Linked DNA regions of Homo sapiens: region 1 is linked to region 2. A link means that fine-mapping ties the variant in region 2 to the expression of a gene that starts in the linked region. Tissue or cell type: whole blood. Region 2 holds a variant in brackets; the other region holds the start of a gene. All regions are shown on one strand. Distances are from middle to middle. Region 1 holds the start of ANXA2R (annexin A2 receptor). Region 2 holds the start of LOC105374748 (a long non-coding RNA gene).

Region 1 (10,102 bases), 21 kb after region 2:
GCTTTCTTCAGGTGCCAGGTCTGGAGTGCTGGTGCACCTATCTCAAAACGCTGTCTCAAAACTCCAACAGGGAGCACCTAACGGTACTGGGTGCAACATTGCTAGCACGGAGCAAACAGCAGTCCAGTAACCTGGAACAACAGGCTCTGCGAAACCAAGGACTCTGACAAAGAAAAATTGCCAATTCCAAACATAGCCTGTTTTAGAGAAATGAATGGCGTTGTCATCGAAAAAACACAGACTCGATTGTGACAGAAATACCGCCACAAACGCAGGTACAGGGACAGCCGACACCGAGAACCAAGGGAAGCGGCTGAGAGCTGCGCCTCCACGGAATAACTGCCAGCCGGCACAGTGCGAGTGAGAAACCGGCCACTCCATGAAACGACCAGTACTGCCACGGAAAAGAATCCGACGTCGCCAACAAGCGGTGCTACCAGGAGAAACGCCTGCTTTTGAAGAAAACAGCCAGGAACGCGACTGAAAGACACTTGCTCCCAGGAAGAATTGGCATTTGTTCCAAAACACAGCTGGATAAACCGAGAACCTTCGGAGTGGTTGCACCGAAACGGGGTCACCCAGCACCTCAGCGTCCTGGGCTCTAGCAAGCCTCACAGAAGCAACCGGCAGTGCTAACACCGAGGAGCACCTAGAGCGGCAAAACTAGCAGTAATGCCATCGACGAAAGGCCAGTTAGGCCAAAAGAATAGAATATTTAGTTCCGGGAATTACAGGCCAGCGCAAACCAGACAGCATAAAGCTGAGGGTCAGCAAAACAAAAATTAGGAACAATTTTTTTTTAAAGGGCAAGTTAGCTGAAAAACACACGCACACACAATAAAAACAATACATTTGGGAAGATTCATCAAATGAAAATTCAAAACTAAGCAAAACATGGAAAAATGGACTCTACAAAGAAGAAAATGCAAACACTTCTAAACAATGTGGTTTCACAGAGGTAATATCGCTGTCAGGCCTATATCAGTATCTGCTCGGTCTCACCAGGACTTCTAACTAAGGGACTGCAGACACTGCTAAACCGCTACTTGCTACTCCTAAAATATCTTCTTCACCTACGTGCCCGGACTTCTATATTTAAAACTCAGGCATAAGTAAAGCAGGGTAAGTTATTATGAAACCGAAAGTTACTGGGACTAAGGAGTCGCAGGCATGGCTATGCTAGTACTGGTTGCGACCAAATATGGACTTGCAAGAGCTAAGAAATCACATTCACAGGGGCACTTAAAATCGAAGCATGCACTTGTTACTCTAAGAAATCCCTAACCCAGGACTCGCTCAGAATATTTCGAACGCAGAATTAAGCATCTTTATCGCAGGCGAAATAAGCCGATACTTATTCCGCTTAAGTCCGAACTTGCTATGCAGAGAAACCACAATCAGGGCTACATTCCGAGTGTAGGAGGTTTAAAACTCCCGAAAAGGCAGTCAAAGCAGGCAGGGCCAAGCCGGACCTGCTGTGCCTACCCGAATTGCTAAACCCAGTTGTGGTACCATTAAGTAACTGGTAGTTCTCTTATAAGCCAAGCTAAACTGTTCCAAAGAAAAAGACGCTGGAAACACTGCTAGCCCTGAGACCCATGAATAAGTAGTCTTTTCAATTATTTATTTATTTTGAGACAGGCTCTCGCTCTGCTGGAGGGCGTTGGTGCTATCCGGCTCACCGCAGCCTCGACCTCCTGAGCTCAAGCAACCCGCCCACCCCAGCCTCCGGAGCAGCTGGGACTACAGGTGCACACCATCTCACAGGGCTAACTTTTGCATTTTTTGTAGACACAGGCCTCACCCTGTCGCCCAGGCTTTTCTCAAACTCCTGAGCTCAAGCAATCCGCATGCCTCCGCTGCTGAAAGTGCTGGGATTACTGCCGTGAGCCACGCTGCCCCGCCAGAATAAGTAATCTTAAGAACTGGTCATCTGTGAAGTTGTATTAATATAAGTAATTGCGTGGTCCTTCCACGAGAAATAGCAAAGATTGATAAACCTCTCAGTCTTATGATCGTGAATAAAATTCCTGAGTGTAAAACAATGAATCGATATACTGAAAAAAAGAAAGACCGCTGTTAAAAATAAAATTAACAATTAAAATTAAAAAGACGTTATAATAACGTAAAAGACATGATATAAAATTAAATGTAAACAAACAATACATTTAAAAAGCAATAATTAGAAAAATAGTAGGAATAAGATTTTAAAATACAATGGAAAAAAACAAATTTTAAATTTGCCAAAAACTCTAAGAATTCTACAATCGTAAAATAGATTTCTCAAAGTGAAAACAGATACGAATGAAATATTTAATGAAATAAATACAAATATTTAAAATACAAGGAAACTGAAAGTAATAAGCGACGCGAAACAAGAAAGAAACATAAGGGAAAAAGAGAATTTAAAAACTGACAACCAGCAATGAAAGCACATCTTAATGTATTTTTATTTTCTAGGTGGAGACGTTTGGTAACTGAGAATCTTTTCAAGGAGGAGAATCCAAAAAGCCTTCTGCTGCTATCTAAGGCTGCTTAGCTCCACAGATCCGTGAACAGCACGCCCAGAGTACAGAGAACGCGGCAAAACCAACGCGAAGAATCCACTCCAGGCAGTCTGAGAAACCCGGGAGGTGGCGCCACGGCTGGAGGGCAGGAGGATGGCGGCGTTCCAAAAGGCACCCGCTGTCACAGACCTCGGTGTCCTGCTGTCTGTCCCAGGGATGGAGAGGACTGCTCCAGGGAAGCTGCTGGAGCCTGAGTCTGTCGGGTTCCTCTGCCTGCCCCACCTCTTCTACGGGTGCCTCTTGCTGCTTCTGTGTCCCCGGCCAACTGAACTCAGTGGGCTTCGCTGTACTTGGTTCCAAGGTGCTCTGGACTCCAGGAGAGAGTCCGTTTTGCCAGTAGACTCCGGGCAGCCGCCAGCAAGGGCTGGAAAGCAGTCCCAAATCACAGCTGTCCAGTGAGTACTCTCCTAGTACTGGATACAAAGGAAGAGGCCACGGCCCACGATCTTCTGAACTCACAATAGGTGGAGGCTGGGGCTCTGGCGCCACCTCTGCGGAATCCCAAGCCCGCTTCACACAGCCAAGAAAATGTTGCTCCATCCCTCAAGCCTCAGACCAACGTTTGCGCTGATCAAGGAGGGAGAGTCTCTGCACTACCATCAGCCTGAGTATTTATGCTCTGCAGAGCCCGTGGGCGGAGGCCAGTCAGATATTAAGAAACTCAGTAGTAACAAATGCACGAAAATTAGTAGACAAATGAAAAACGATAACATTTTAGAGAGTACATAGAACCAAAACGAACCGTAATTCCGACAGAAAAACATGGCGAGAAAAGAAACCGAAATGAAATGACACTAAGCAAATCTTGAAGAGAACTAGCGCTACAGAACGCAGGTATTCAAGAGCGCGCAAGGGCCAAGAACCACCCGTTTCCGGGAAATGAGCGTTGCTGCCACCGGAAAACTGTCTGCTAGGGCTCTGCCCTAACCACCTTGCAAACGAGAAACTGGCGCGTTGAACTTAGCAAGCGCCGGCACCTAGCGGATAGCGCTGGTATTGCCAAACAAATATCCGTTTTGGCGCCGTAAAGGGTGCTGCTAAAGAGAAACAGCATGCTCTTAGAACTAAGAGCGGTGCTTCCACACCTAAACAACCTGTTTGGAGGAATGAACCAACTCTGTTTCAATGTGTTGTACCAGAAAAATGTGTTGCGGCATTTAATGTGTTTTAATCCGTTCAATGTGTTTGATAGGTTTAATATGTTTTAACCCGTTTTAATGGGTTGTGACAGAAAAAGCGCCGGCTAATGGTACCACACAATTACTAGTGCGAACAGCGGCTCGGTGCAATCACCGTTCTGCACGGCAAAACGGGGTTCAGGAAGTTCCTAGGAGATACTAGCGGTTGTAGGAGCGAAAAAGTGACAGCACTGAGAACCTAAGGACCCCGCGAACGGGAAATGTCACGTTGGGTGCAGCAACTGAGAAAACGCCCAGTGGGCGCCACTGGCAAACGTGCTGATACAAAACCGCCAGCTCTGCATAGGAAGCGGAGCCTCCAGACAGAACCCGGAACCTGATACCAGCGAGGCTAAGACCGAGCTCGGCTCCCCGGCTCCTGAGAGAATGAAAGTCAAGAAGCACGAATCTGAGACGCTCAAAATTAGAAGAAAAAAAAAATACATAATTTAAAATAATGAAAGTCTGAAATGCAAGTAAAAATGAAAAACACATCGGTAACATTGTCCTCAGAGCAAGACACAAAAATAATTTTAAGGTAAGCAAAAGTTACAGAGAACCAACCCTACAAAGAAGAAATTACAAATATGGCTAAGCGATGCAATGCCTACCATTAGAATATTTCTGTCAGATCTAAACCCCTGCAGGTTGCTCCTGTCATAATTTCCTACGAGAAAAAAAACAAAAATATCCACGGTTAAACGTGTTTAGCTACGTCTAAAAAATCGTAGTAGCTGGTACATCCCGATTTGGTCTACAAGAGGAAAAAGTCTCGATGGGCAGGACTTGCTATTGTCAAAGGGAGCTTGGTAAAACTGAGACATCGCGATCGCCGGCATTTCCTGACTTCCACGGGAGTTTTAAAAACACACAAGCATAGCTAAGACAGGACTCGATATTGCGAAACCAAACTTGGTATAAGAGCTCCCAACACTGCTAAACTGGTCATCGCTAAACCTTTAAAAAAAAAAAAAAAGCATTCGCTGGTACCCAGATTTCCACAGGAGTTAAACATTTCCTGCGCAGCTAAAGCAAGTCTTACCAGTAGGAAACCGGAACTTGCTAGGACTAAGAAACTTGAGGCTAGGCTGACCCCATGGTTGTTATGATTAGAAATCCGAGGCCACTGGAAACCCGGAGCTGCTGACCAACGAGTCACAGGGTAACTTCGCCTTCGCATGGGGAAACGGGTGAGTTCCTACGGCCTAGATATCGCAGCCAGGGCTAGACCGGTGTTTGTCTTAAGTCAGGACTTGCTTGGGCTGAGAAAATACATTTTGGCTATTCCCCTACTTGGACAGAGGGTGGAAATCCCAGGCACCGCGAAATCGAAACTTGCTAGGACTAAGAAGCCAACGACGCGCGAAACCGTGGGGTCCTGCGACAGAGACGCCGGCGGCGCCGCCACAGGACTGCGTTCTGGAGGCCGAGCCGGAACCCGTGCGGCGGCGCTGGGAAGAGACTGTGCCCCTGCAGCTCCCCTGTCACCGGCTCCAAGGAGCGTCGGGCTCCCCCCGCCCAGCCCTGCAGCACCCATCCGGCAACGCCAGACTCGGCGCAACGGGGGCAGCTGCGACTTTAAATCTCTCAGATCCGCGGCCTGAGGGCTGCCGCCACCGAGAAATGGAGGCACAGAGCTGTGAACAAGAGACCACGGCTCGCCGAAATGGCGGTGCCAGGAGCCTGAAAGGGAATGCAGCCGGCGGGGTTGTCAAGGACAACATTTGTTTTGGCGCAACCAGCGGTGCCGTCACCAAGAAACCGTCGACTCTGAGAAAAAAAGAGAAGTTCGGCTACCGAGAAACTCCGTGCAGCAAGTGCTGTGACAGCAAAACCGCCGGCTTCGCGCCGCTGGCGAAAGAGCCAACGGAAACGCCGGGTGCTGCGACCGCGAAGCCGGCACTAGAGGGCCTCGGATGGAGAAAGCCCCGCACCGAGACGAGGAAACTGTGCACAGCACGACTAGCAGTTGACACAAACAGAAAAGTGTCTCGTCTGCTCTCTGGGAGAAAGCGTGGATCAAAACCAGCAACTCAGTGGAGAGAACCCCGCAGCCACTGAAGAAGTTGCCCACGTGGCGGTGGGGCCAGAGAAACACCGCGATTTCGACGACAGCCGTAGGGATACCACAGAGAAACATGCGCGGCCACAGAAGTACATCCAGCTCCGCGCAATCAGTGGTTCTGCGATCCAGAAACCGCCAGCTGGGCTAGACTAGAAACTTCTAAAAAACTGTCGTCCCATAGCAGCTTTCCTAACCACGACAGACAGTCGCCTTTAGAGAGCACCTAACGGTGCTGAGACCGGCCTGGGCCAGCAAAAGCGCAGAGCGGTGCCAGTGCCAAGAAACGCCCGACTTGGTGAAACCAACCTTGTGACCACCGATTCCACTGGCTTCGCAGGACGCAACGGGCGAAGGCGCGGCGGAGAAACCGCAGGCTCCCTTCACCGATTATGCTGCGGGCTGGGGATGGTGGGGGGCACCCGCGAAATTGTGAAACCAGCGGCGCTGGGACCCAGCGATCAGCTGCCCGTAGCAAATGTCTGTGCAGTTGCAAAAGATAATTTTTGGCCGTGAGAAGGTTGCCGCCAGAGAGCGTCCGATAACGCTGACAAAGGCGTGGCGTTGCCAGTGAGAAACAGCCGGCGCTGGGAAAGGAACGGTGCAGCGACCGACCAACTGCGCGCTCGGTGCCACCAAAGTGCTACTGGCTCTACCCACTCTGTCCCCCACGGGCTTAGGGAAGTCTGATGTCTTTTTCTTTTCTTTTTTCCTCTGTCGCCTAGGCTGGTGCAGTGGTGTCATCTTGGCTCAGTGCAGCCTCGACTTCCTGGGATCCAGCGATCCTCCCGCTTCAGCCTCTAGAGTAGCCGAGACCACAGGTGAGTGCTACCACCCCCGTCTAATTTATATATATTTATATATATAAATATATATATTAAAATATATATTTTATATTTATATATAATATAAATAAATATATAAATATAAATATATATTTTTATATATTATATAAAATATATAAATATATATTTATTTATATATTATATATAATATATATATTATATAATATATATATTATATAATATATATATAATATATAATATATATATTATATATAAAATATATTATATATAATATATATAATATATTATATATTATATATTATATATAATATATATAATATATTATATATAATATATAATATATAATATATTATATATAATATATAAAATATATAAAATATAGTATATAATATATAAAATATATTATATATAATATATAATATATAAGATATATAATATATTATATATAATATATTATATATAATATATTTTATATAGTATATAAAATATAAAATATATATTATATATAAAATATATATTATATATAAAATATATATTATATATAAAATATATATTATATATGAAATATATATATATAAATATATATATATTAGTGACGGCGGTCTCGCTATGTTGCCCAGGCTGGTCTCGAACTCCTGAGCTCAAGCGATTCGCCCGCCTGGGCCTCCCAAAGTGCTGGGATCACAGGCGTGGGCCACCGAGGCCCGCAGGAAGTCTGTATTGTTCTTGCATTCCACCCAGTGCATTACGCAGGGGGAGAGTAGTGGGCTTATGCGCCGAGAACCAAGCAGATCCTGTTGGTCCCAGGAACAAAGTATAAACCATTCTGGTCGCCAACAGCTTCCTACGCAGGAAACAGCCATCCACCCTCTGTGACTGGGCTTTTCCAGGTCACCCCTCGCTGCCAGGCTCTCTTCCCGGTCCAGAGCCCACAGGATCCTACAGGAGGGGCCAACAACTGCTTGCCTTTGAAACTTGAAACTCTCGGTCTAAGGTTCCTTAGGAGCGTAAAAGGCACAGCGTTTTCTGATCGCAGCTTCAGGTCTCCCGCCCCTGTCCCGGTACCTCTCCTGCAGGACGGAACTCTGTGGGAACGCTCGTTGATTCTGATGGTTAACTGTCAGATATCCTTGATATTGGACATAGGATTTGGAAGAGGGCAGGAGAGAAAAATGAACTGCAAGACTCCAGCACAAGAGGTGGGATTGCTGGCAGATGTCTGCTCCCTCTCCAAACCTAATGAACATCTCAAAGTGCCATCCACTTTCCTATACCCTTGATCTGTGAAATGGATCACTGACGCTTTCTCTGTCTTTCCGGAAATGCAAAACAGGTGAATTTTCAAGCGCTTGAATTGTCTCTCACACTTTTCAGTCAAGAGTGGGGCTATAAACTCCTTCCTCATAGGAAATAAGGAACTGCCACTGCTTGGAAGTAAAACGTATTTTTCCCATAAGCTTTCACATTTCCCAAAAAAAATTATACATCCAGATGTAATCCCCCTAAGAGGCTTACAGACCCTACCAGGAGCGTTCCCACGCGAACGCATCATCTCCCAATCGGATCCTGAAAACACCATGCAACCAATTCCATCCTTTTCTGGATCAACCTGGGCAGAGGACAGGTGCAGAGGAGCCCAGAGAAGGGCCTTGACAAGTCAGGAGACCCAATTTGGGGTCGCAATTGTCACTCACTCCCCAGGCGTTTGCTTTGATCTTCCCCTCCCACCATACTACTTCTTCTGCTACCTGGTTTCTCCCTGGTATTTGAGGATCCTCCAATTGCCTTCTGGTCTTACAGACGGGAGAATAAAGGAAAAATGGCATCGTTTCCACCTTAAAAGTTACAAGCACTTCACCAGATGGTACAGCCTAGGTAGAGCCTTTGTAAAACAAATGCCCGCCCACTGCTTCACCCTCCTCATTTCCACCTCAGCAAAGCATTTTAGCAGAAAAGCTGACCCAGAGCAGTAGCTCCCTGCTATAATCCTAGCACTTTGGGAGGCTAAGTCAGGAGTATCTCTTTAGCCCAGAAGTTCAATACCACCCTAAGCACAAAGTGAGATCCTGCCTCTACCAAAAAAAGAAAAAAAAAATTGAAAAATTAGTCGGATTTGGTCTCGAGTGCCTGTAGTCCCAGCTACTCGGGAAGCCGAAGTGGGAGGATCTCTTGAGCCCTAGAGATGCAGGCTGCAGTGAATGGTGATCTGGGACCGCATCACTGCAGTTCAGTCTGGGTGACAGAGGGAGACGTTGTCTCAGAAAATAAAATAAAATAAAAAATAACATAACTGGGATTACAAGCTCTGTAAGAAGGGGTCACCTGAGACATTATTACATATACCATTAACAGAGGAAAATGCTGCAAATTATACTGTGTCCCAATGGTAAGAGGCCACCCATTTAAAAATATATACATATTTCAGAGATACTAAATGAGAAAAATGTTTACCCTAGAACTGATTAAATTCAGGTATCCACTCCTTTATTTTCAATCTTTAGTGCCATTTTTTAGTTTGTTTATGTCTTGAAAATAGCATAGAGATTAGAGTTGTAATTCTTTATTTTTTAAATTATTTTTATTTTGTTCACTTATTTATTTATTTTTGAGACAGAATCTTGCTCTGTCACCCAGGCTGGAATGCAGTGGCACGATCTCAGTTCACTGTAACCTCTGCTTCCGAGGTTCAAGCCATTCTTGTGCCTCAGCCTCCAGAGTAGCTGGGACCACTGGCTCCTGCCACAACACCCGGGTAATTTTTGTATTTTTAGAAGAAACGGGGTTTCACCATGTTGGCCAGGCTAGCCTTGAACTCCTGATCTCATGTGATCCACCCACCTCGGCCTCCCAAAGTGCCAGGATTACAGGCATGAGCCACCATGCCAAGCCAAGTTGTAATTTTTTGAAACCTATTTTTTGATTGTATTTGTTTTTTTCATAGCTCAATACACTGAAATGGTTGGGTAAGTGGGAAAATCATCTTCCCCACTCCTCCAGTATCTGTAAGGTGCAATTTCTCATAAACACTTTCAGCTTCTTGCCTCCCCTTTTAGTTCTTCTCACATATTGTGTGGTTTGTGGCATGAAAATCATTATTTGTGACAGACACCATACCAACTATATTTTGTGCTTTATCTTGTTTCATTCTCAACCGAAAAATGTGGTGAGCACATGCTTTGTGCTGGGCTTTCTTCTTAGTTCTCTCCATTTTGTAGATGCACAGCCTCACTTAGGGAAGTTGGAGTGCATATAGCTCTGTCTGTGGCTGAATAGATAAATGTAATTTTAGCATTCAATGTTAAGAAATCAACTCTTGGTGCAAATTTAAGGCTCATCTTCTAATGTAGTGTGTGTGTGTGTGTGTGTGTGTGTGTGTGTGTGTGTGATTTTACTGTGTCCCTTCTCCCTAACACTCCAGTTCAAGATAGCAACCTAAGTTCTGAGTTGATTATTCTGGACACACTCTCTCAAAATTTGACTGTTGGACAC
Region 2 (10,121 bases):
AATCTTCAATCCCAGAGACCAACAGCAAATGGTTCATTTTTTGTAGGTGAACCAGAGGCATGGTGGAGCCCTCCGTTGGCACCAAGCAGAATTCTTCACTTTCTTACTCTAGATTACTTACCCTGGGACATTTTTGCCTTTTACTTTCTGTCTAGACTCCTGCATGATCTTTGTTTTTACCTGCTCTACTACAGTTATAACTGTTACCATCTTTTCTGAGCCTAAAATCAAGAACCAATACCTGACAAAGAAGTAGATTGTTAAAACCAAGAGTTTCTCTGTATCAGGAAAGTATTCATATGAATTCCTGCCTCCTAATTTATTAGTTGCCCAGCTTTCTGCAACATACCAACTGACCAGAAGATTCACCTGTACACACCACCTGAGTGTTGGGGACTTTTTCTTTCTTGGCCCTCCCACCTCCCACCGTTTTTCTGTTTTGTGTCACTTTCATTTGGTTAATAATATTCTAACAAGATTTGTCATTATAGTTATCTTAGTTTGATGAGATTTTTCTTCATGAAATTGAACAAAAATATCAGTCTTTGTTAATTCTTTATTATTTATTGTTTCGGATGACACAGCAGGAAGGGAAATAGGAAAGGCTCTACATCATTTGTCGTATGTGCTCCACAATTTGCCCTCAAGTTTGAATCCTAGGTCCTACCACCCACACAAAACTGCCATTGCCAGCCTGCTCAATTCTACCCAATCTCTAGCCATTTTCATACTGCAAAGTTCCTATGACCTCCTCCCAAGGAGCTCAATTCTGTACTTTACCTCTTCCTGACCTCCCTGGAATCCACCCCGCCTCCAACCACACTGTAATTAGAATCTGAATTCTGCAACTACCTTGATGTTAGTCTCTGTAGGGGAGCAGCCTGCAGCCTCCTATGGACTCCCATTAAGACAGGATATTCCTTCCGTCTAGGGGGTGCTGATTGCAACTTTTTTGCTAAGATGAAAAGCTGGAGTCGAAATGAGAAGAGAGGAGTTGTGGCAGGTATTTTGTTTTGCAATGGCTCCAGACTGCTCTTCCGTTTGATAAAGTGGCTGTAACTATGTGGGTGGGAACAGTGCAGTTTTTTCTTTATTCTCCCACCCACAAAACCAGGAGGAAATTGGAAGGGCCTCAAATACCAGGGAATGTTTTGGCTAGCTGAAGACGGGGTAAGGTGGGAAGGAGATATTGAGGCAAACATCTTGGGAGAGGGTGAGAATTACAAGGCCAAAATGGATTTCCTTACCAGGCAGGCATATCTCTGCCTTTGTCCTGGCATGGCCTCTACCTAGGATGCCCCAGGGAAAGGATAGTTTGGTTTGCACAGGAGCAGCAGTGATGAAAATCGGAAATGATGAGTGTGGTTGGAGATATTTGTGGCAGGGTTTGTAGGTCTCTTTGAGGGGGCTCAACTCACAAAGTGCAGATTTTTATTAAAATATAAATGCTTGTGGGAAAGGACATTTTCCTACTGAGCAGTGGCAGTCCCATATTTCTTCTCAGATTTAAAAAAAAAAAGGCCTCAGTCTGAAAAGTGAGGAGATGGAGGATTTGAGCACTTACAAGTTCACCTGCATTGCATTTCCCAGAAGATAGAAATCAATGATGCATTTTGAAGATCATGCTGCTAGAGACAGAGAACCACAACTTGAGCTTTTCTCTGGGCTTAGAGAGGAGGTGTATGTCTCGCTGTCAATTCTACATCCAACGCTGGAATCTTTCAGCCCATTTTCCTCCCCGGCTGTTTTTGAACTACTATCCCCAAATATCGAGGATATCTGACAGAGTGAACCATCAGAATAAGGAGCGATTGCCACAGAGTTCCATCCAGTAGGGGAGGGACTTGATGTGCGGGGCAAGCCTGATGCCCGGGTCAGGCGACTGTGCCTTTCATTCTCCACGGAGATCTTGAACCTAGAGTTTCCAAGTTCCGAAGAGATGCGGTTGTCGACAGCTCTCCTAGAATCTCTGATGGCTCTGAACGGGGACAAAGGTCTAGGGCAGAGGGATGGTGTGGAAGGACCCAGCCACGGCCATTGGAAGAGCAGTTTCCTGCAATGTAATGCTGTTTGCGACCAGCATAAGCTTTAGCTCTCTCCCAGGACGAGCCACATCCGCCCCATTCACGGTCCTTATTCCAGCTCCTTTCCCTCTGCGAATCACACTGGGTGGGTCGCTGGGGGCCTCGGTAATTACGGATTATGGCACAGCCAAGAAAAATACAGGTTTTCTTAAGCCTGAAGCCACTGACTTGAGGGGGGAGAGTAGGAGTAATGCCAGCAGCAGTTTTGTATTTGGTTTTTGTTTTTATATTCTAGTCTCTAGGCCACAAGACAATGTTGCACCCAGTGCCAGTCGATCCGTCACGGCGCCGCAAACTTTCCCTGAACGGAGGGTTTGTGGCTGACATCTCTAGTTTCTCAGAGCCTGGGAGTGATCACTGGCTGCACCGCTGATGGCGCCCAAAAGAACGCGCATTTGTCTTTGGCAACAGCGCTGGGTTTCGCCTCGTGCCCGCGCCTGAAGGGTCCTAGCGCCGCCAGATTCTCACACTCGCGGGTCCAGCGCCCAGCGCTGCTCCTCCCACCAGTCATCGGTTTCTCACACGCACTTCATTGGCAGCACTGGCGAGTCAGTTTTCCGGTGGCGGCGGCGCTAGTTGGTCTGCACGAAACGTTTCCCTTCTCGCTCCGTGTGTCCCATTCTCCATCCCACGTCCTCCAGTGCCGGGGTCATGGTCGCAGCACCCGGCGTTCCCGTTGGCTCTTTTGCCGCTGCGCGGAGCCGGCGGTTTTTCTGTCACAGCACTTGTACGGAGTTTCTCGGCGGCCGAACGTCTCTTTTTTTCTCAGAGACGACGGTTTCTTGGTGACAGTACCGTTGGTTGCGCCGTAACGAATGTTCTCCTTGACAGCCCCACCAGCTGGCGTCACTCGCAGGCTCCAGACGCCGCCATTTCGCCAAGCCGAGGTCTCTTGGTTGCGGCACTGCTTCTGGCTCGGTGCCTGTATTTTCTCGGTGCCTACAGCGCCCAGGTCGCCGATCTGAGGGCTTCGGAGTACCGGCCGGGCGCGGTGGCTCACGCCTGTAATCCCAGCACTTTGGGAGGCCGAGGCGGGCGGATCAGGAGGTCAGGAGATCGAGACCATCCTGGCTAACACGGTGAAACCCCGTCTCTACTAAAAATACAAAAAAATTAGCCGGGCGTGGTGGCGGGTCCCTGTAGTCCCAGCTCCTCGGGAGGCTGAGGCAGGAGAATGGCGTGAATCCGGGAGGCGGAGCTTGCAGTGAGCCGAGATCGCGCCACTGCACTCCAGCTTGGGCGACAGAGCGAGACTCCAACTCAAAAAAAAAAAAAAAAAAAAAAAGAAAAGAAAAAGAAATCTGGGTACCCGCGAATGCGATTTTTTTTAGGTTTACCGATGATCAGTTTAGCAGTGCCTGGGAGCTCTTATACCAAGTTTGTTTTCGCAATATTGAGTCCCACCTTAGCTAAGCTTGTGTGTATTTTAAACTCCCATGGAAGTCAGGAAATGTCCGCAAACGCGATTTCTGGTTACCAAGCTCCGTTTGGCAATAGCAAGTCCTGCCGAACGCGACTTTTTCCTCTTGTGGACCAAGTCTGAATAGACCAGCTACTGCGATTTTTAAGTCGTAGTAAAAAAGGTTTAACCGTGACTGCTTTTTTTTGTTGGTGTTGTTTGTTTTTGTTTTTGTTTTCGTAGGAAATGTAGACTTAGGTGTAACATGTACCGGTTTAGATCTGACAGAGATATCACAATTGTAGGATTGCATCTTTTAGCAAGGTTTGTAATTTCTTCTTTCTAGGATTGGTTCTCTGTAATTTTTGCTTATTTTTAAATTCTCTCTTTGTCTTTTGCTCTGAGAACGATGTTACCGATGTGTTTGCTTTCCATGTTTACTTGCATTTTAGCCTTTATTTTTTTAATTTTGATTTTATTTAAATGTTATGTATTTTTTTTCTACTAATTTTGAGCGTCTCAGCTTCCTGCTTCTTTACTTACATTCTCTCAGGATCCGGGGAGCCGAGCTCGGTCTCAGTCTCCCTGCTGTCAGGTGCCAGGTTGTGTCTGGTGGCTCTCCTTCGTATGCGGAGCTGATGGTTTTGCATCAGCGCTTTTGCCAGTAGAGCCGACTAGCGTTTTCTCAGTTACGGCACCGTTCTTAGCGCCCAGTGTGACGTTTCCCATTCGCCAGGTCCTTATGTTCTCTGTGCTGTCACTTTCTTGGTTCTCGCACCGCTAGTATCTGCTAAAGAACTTCCTAAACCATGTTTTACTGTGCAGAACGGTGATTGCACGGAGCCGCTGTACGCACTAGTAATTTCATAGCACCGTTAGCTGGCGCTTTTTCTGTCACAACACATTAAAACGGGTTAAAATACTGCAAGCGGATTAAACACATTAAGAGGATTAAAACATTAAAATGTC[T/TCAACACATTTTTCTGACA]CAACACATTTTTCTGACACAACACATTTAAACGGAGTGGGTTCATTCCTCCGAAGAGGATGTTTAGGCGTGGAAGCACCGCTGTTTCCCAAGAGCACGGTTTCTCTCTGGCAGCACCACTTATGGCACCAAAACAGGTATTTTTTGGCAACACCAGCACTATTCGCTAGGTGCCGGCGCTTGCTGAGTCCCAGCGCCGCCAGTTTCTCTTTCGGTCGTTAAGTAGCTCAGAGCCCTAGCGGACAGTTTTCAGGTGGCAGTAATGCTCATTTCCTGGAACAGATGGTTCGTGGCCCTTGAAGCGCTGCGATCTGTAAAGCTAGTTCTCTGCAAGGTTTGCTTAGTGTCTGTTTTATTTCGGTTTCTTTTCTTGCTATGTTTATCTGTCGGAATTACAGTTTGTTTTGGTTCTATGTAATCTCTAAAATGTTATCGTTTTTCTTTTGACTACTAATTTTTGTGCATTCATTACTATTGAGTTTCATAATACCTGGCTTGCCTCCGCCCACGGCCTCCGGAAAGCATAAATGTCCAGGCTAATGGGAGTGCTGAAGGCTCTGCCTCGTTGATCAGCACAAACGCTTGTGTCCTGCTCTAAGGCTTAAGCGATGGAGCAACGTTTTCTTGGCTGTGCGAAGGGGGCTTGGGATTCCGCAGAGGTGGCGCCAAAGCCCCAGCCTCCACCTGCTCTGGGTTCAGAAGGTTGTGGGCGGTGGCCTCTCCCTTTTTATCCAGTACTGGGAGAGTACTCATTGGACAGCTGTAATTTGGGACTGCTTTCCAGCCCTTGTTAGTGGCTTCAATTAAATACTTTATCAGAAAAATAGAAACTTTAAGCCCAAATGATTTTTCAGGTTCACTTGATTTAAGTAAATCTTTGACAAATAAGCTGCATTTAAAATTATCAGTAAAATAAAATTAGAAATGTCTTCAGAATTGTCAATATACATTATTGTTTAGATTTATTGGTCAGCGGTTTCTGATTTATCTCTGCTAGATATTATAAGGCGTGAAAATTTGGCATGAAGGTTATAAATCTATAAATGCAACCCCAAACAGAATTATCTTTGTTCATGTAATTTTGGTAAATAAGGCATTTAATATCATTGGTTTAAAGAAAACAGCTAAATCTTGGGTTACTGACAGAAGAGAAAAATCCATTTATTTAACCTTAAGGTTCTTACTTAGGTAAACACCTGATATTCACAGTCTATAATAATGGTTGACAGGGACATAACTGTAACTGGCCCATATGTTCATTTTGCCTGTTGCCCAGATAGAGTTGATTTGTCAAGACAGCGAATTGCAATAAAGAGTTTAATATGGGCAGAGTTGGCTAAATTGGAGACCTGAATTTTATTATTACTCAAATCAGCCTCCCAGAAAATTCAGAAGCCAAGGTTTTTCAAGGATAGTTTGGCAGAAGGGTGCTGCTGCTCAGCTGAGGAACAATCACAGGGGTGTGGAAAACAGTCCTCCTGCACTCAGTCCATTTCTTGAGTGGCGGCCACAGAGGAGTGGCTGATGCTGTTGGGGCCATCAAAGTCTGAAAAGTCATCTCAAAAAGCCAAACCTAGGTTCTAGTAATTAGGGAAGTTGCAAATCTTGTGACCTCTGGAATAAAGGCTGGTAATCCTTTAACTATGCCCACATCTTAGCAGAAATCAGGCCCTTCTCATCCTCCTAACCTGGTGGGCTTTCATCAGCTTTACAAAGATGGTTTAGTTTTGGGAAGGGCTATTATCATATAAACTATAAACTAAATTTCTCCCTAAGTTAGGTTGGCCCATGCCCAGATCAAGGGCTGTTTGGAGGTTAAAGGCAAGATGGAGTTCGTTAGGTCAGGTCTCTGTCACTGTCAATATTTTCTCACTGTTAAAATTTTGCAAAGCTGGTTTCATGACTTTAAATGATAGCTAGCTATGTCTAATATCACAGATTTTATAAGTAATCTAGGTAAACTATTTTAAAAAATAAATTAGTTAGGTAAATGTAATGGAATAAATGCTTATAAGTAAACATACAATTTAGAATCTTAAAGTTAAATTAAATAATAGTCATTAAATGTCCAGGTCATGTCCAATTTTTAAAAAATTGTAGGAAAACATTTTTCCAAAAAAAGTGTTCTTATTAAAAGGAAAATAGTTTTGTCTAATTCACAGATTATTTGTGAAACAAGATAAAAGAAACCAGAAAAAAGAGAGAGAGATAGGCCAGGTGTGGTGGTCTGTAATCCCAGCATTTTGGGATGCTAAGGGGGGCAGATCATTTGAGATCAGGAGTTCAAGACCAGTCTGGCCAATATGGTGAAACCCCGTCTCTGACAAAAATACAAAAATTAGGCCAGGCACAGTGGCTCACGCCTGTAATCCCAGCACTTTGGGAGGCCAAGAAGATGGATCACGAGATCAGGAGATCGAGACCATTCTAGCTAACATGGTGAAACCCCGTCTCTACTAAAAACACAAAAATTAGCAGGGCGTGGTAGTGGGCACCTGTAGTCCCAGCTACTTGGGAGGCTGAGGCAGGAGAATGGCGTGAACCTGGGAGGTGGAGCTTGCAGTGAGCTGATATCGCACCACTGCACTCCAGCCTGGGCAACAGAGCAAGACTCCATCTCAAAAAAAAAAAAAATTATGTTATCTAGTTGGCTATAAATAAAAGGAAATTACAACAGTCTTTCTAGAGATTGGGCTTTGATACAAAAAAATACATTAATACTCAAAAGACTTGGTTAGAACAACATTTTTGTAAAATATTATTTACTCTTAATAAGTTATATTTTAATTTACCCAAATTTTCAACTTTTATTGCATCTCAATGTTTTCAGCTTTCTCTCTATTATTTATTTATTATTATTATTATTATTTTCTGTCTTTTTTTTAAGACGGAGTCTTGCTCTGTCACCATGCTGGAGTGCAGTGGTGAGATCTAGGCTCACTGCAACCTCCACCTCCCAGGTTCAAGCGATTCTCCTGCCTCAGCCTCCCAAGTAGCTGGGACTACAGGTGCACACCACCACGCCCAGCTAATTTTTGTATTTTTAGTAAAGATGGCGTTTCACCATGTTGGTCAGGGTGGTCTCCATCTCTTAACTTCGTGATCTGCCCGCCTCAGCCTCCCAAAGTGCCGGGATTACAGGCTTGAGCCACTGCGCCAGGCCTCTCTCCTTTTTAAGGCCTGAGATAATAACTTTCCCTTCAACTTTTTTGTCAGCTCCTGTAACTTTTTTCCTTAGGTTTTAACTGTTGTTGTGGTCTGATGCTAAAAAACACTTCATCTTTAGGATCAAAACGAAATGTATTCTTCCAATATAACATTCTGTGCTCTTGACTTTTTAAAATATATCTAAATTGTTCTATGAAACCAAAAAACTTCACTTATGTCCTGGGACACACTCTTCCTATGTCTAATTAATTCAAGTGCCCTTTTCATTAGTTTTGACTTGAAGGTTGTCTAAATGGAATCCCATATGGAAAAGCACATCCTTTTTTGCCTTTTGGTAGCCAGCCTGAGAATAACATATTTTACATTTTATCAAAATAATTCCTATGTCATTACTAGGTTTTTATTTGCTCAGAAAAACTGAGATTTAAGGAGGCTGAGGCAGGCATATCACGAGGTCAGGAGTTCAAGACCAGCCTGGCCAACACAGTGAAACCCAGCTCTACTAAAAATACAAAAAATTAGCCAGAAGTGGTGGCGGGTGCCTGTAATCCTAGCTACTAGGGAGGCTGAGGCAAGAGAATCACTTGAACCTGGGAGGCGAAGGTTGCAGTAAGCCAAGATCGAGCCACTGCATACCAGCCTGGGTGACAGTGTGCGACTCTGTCTCAAAAAAAAAGAAAAGAAAAAGAAAAGAAAACTGAGATTTAAAAAAATTAAGGTTAATTAAGGTTATTATATCCATGTAACTTTCTGTATTTCTTTTAAAGTTCTTGTGCTACTAATTTTCAGGGCTTTGACTCCTGAGTCTAAAAAGGTCACTAACTCCCGCTAAATTGAGAGCAATTGAAGCCTCATCTTCAGATCTAGGAGAAGATGAAAATCAGAATAAGCTGCAGTCATGAGACATGGCGCCAGAAATTAAGACTATTCAAACCCTCTAGTCCCAGGGACTATTGAAGAAGAAGTGGGTGTGTAAGCTTGTAAGGACCTATTTTAACAGATAAAATTAGTTCAGTTTCTGTATAATTTATAGATAATTTAATTTAAAGAGTTTTTTTTTTTTTTCCAGATAAGGTCTAGATCTGTCACCCAGGCTGGAGTACAGTGGCATAGTCCTAGCTCACTGCAACCTCCACCTCCCAGGCTCAAGTGATCCTACCACCTCAGCCTCCTAAGAAGCTGGGACTATAGATGTGCACCAACACGCATGGCTAATTTTTGTATTTTTTGTAGACACCGTGTTTCGCCATGTTGCCCAGGCTGGTCTCAAACTCCTGAGCTCAAGCAGTCTGCCTGCCTAGACCGCCCAAAGTGCTGAGTTTACAGGTGCGAGCCACCACAGCCAGCCTATAAAGTAAACGTGAATATCTAAGGAACACTGATGCAAGACCAGCATGTGGGACCCCATGTAAGATTAACAATGTTTTCATGGATCATTAACCCATTCTTATTAAAAAAATTATGAAAGATTATGAAAAGGTTTACAAAAGTTGTATCTTATGGTCAAGATGATTAAAATTTATTAGATTTGTCTATAATATCTGAGAAAGATTTGATTGGCTTCATGCTGTCTTTATTAGCTCTTATTGTTTGGGAAAGCAAGTCTCAAAGAGTGAAAGGTTTTGGCTTTTAGTTTTTGAAAACTTTGAGTTACTGCTTAACTAAATGAATGACTTATTTTTTACAATGACCTGTTGTGGGAAGTCAGGGACCCCAAACGGAGGGACCGGCTGAAGCCATGAAAGAAGAACGTGGATTATGAAGATTTTATGGACATTTATTAGCTCCCCAAATTAATACTTTTGTAATTTCTTATGCCTGTCTTTACTGCAATCTCTAAACATAAATTGTAAAGATTTCATGGACACTTATCACTTCCCCAATCAATACCCTTGTGATTTCCTATGCCTGTCTTTACTTTAATCTCTTAATCTTGTCAGTTGAGGAGGATGTATATCATCTCAGGACCCTGTAATAATTGCGTTAAGTACACAAATTGTACAGCATGTGTGTTTGAGCAATATGAAATGTGGGCACCCTGAAAAAAGAACAGGGTAACAGCAATTGTTCAGGGAATAAGAGAGATAACCTTAAACTCTGACCGCCGGTGAGCCGGGCAGAACAGAGCCATATTTCTCTTCTTTCAAAAGCAAATGGGAGAAATATCGCTGAATTCCGTCCCTGAGAAAGAGAATGCGCACCTAGGGGTAGGTCTCTGAACTGGCCGCCCCGGGGCGTACCTGTCTCTTATGGTCGAGATTGCAGAGGTGAAATAAACTCCAGTTTCCCATAGCGCTCCCAGGCTTATTAGGAAGAGGAAATTCCCGCCTAATAAACTTTGGTCAGACCAGTTGATCTCAAAACCCTGTCTCCTGATAAGATAATATCAGTGACAATGGTGCCAAAACTTCATTAGCAATTTTAATTTCGTTTCGGTCCTGTGGTCCTGTGATCTCGCCCTGCCTCCACTTGCCTTGTGATATTCTATTACCCTGTTAAGT

Evidence for each region. PIP is the estimated chance that this variant, and not a neighbour inherited with it, causes the effect.
Region 1: it holds the start of ANXA2R, and the variant in region 2 is fine-mapped to the expression of ANXA2R in whole blood (INTERVAL, PIP 0.96).

Annotation. Positions count from the first base shown.
Region 1 is chr5:43,036,940-43,047,041 of GRCh38, forward strand. ANXA2R (annexin A2 receptor) reads right to left here and starts at 3,380. Exons shown (of 1, transcript NM_001014279.3): 1 at 2,432-3,380. The coding sequence starts at 3,107. The coding sequence ends at 2,526. All of the region lies in intron 2 of ANXA2R-OT1 (ANXA2R overlapping transcript 1), which reads right to left. It overlaps ANXA2R-AS1 (ANXA2R antisense RNA 1), which reads left to right and starts at 5,195. Exons shown (of 2, transcript NR_015447.1): 1 at 5,195-6,628; 2 at 7,504-8,329. RefSeq lists enhancers at 2,262-2,802, 2,494-2,543, 2,564-2,973, 2,984-3,033, 4,689-4,768 and 7 more and a silencer at 3,374-3,643.
Region 2 is chr5:43,015,510-43,025,630 of GRCh38, forward strand. All of the region lies in intron 2 of ANXA2R-OT1 (ANXA2R overlapping transcript 1), which reads right to left. It overlaps LOC105374748 (a long non-coding RNA gene), which reads left to right and starts at 2,636. Exons shown (of 3, transcript NR_188279.1): 1 at 2,636-3,163; 2 at 3,727-3,807; 3 at 8,690-10,121. RefSeq lists enhancers at 129-178, 1,965-2,204, 2,603-3,125, 2,665-2,804, 4,872-4,921. The variant T/TCAACACATTTTTCTGACA (reference allele first, on the strand shown) is at 4,453.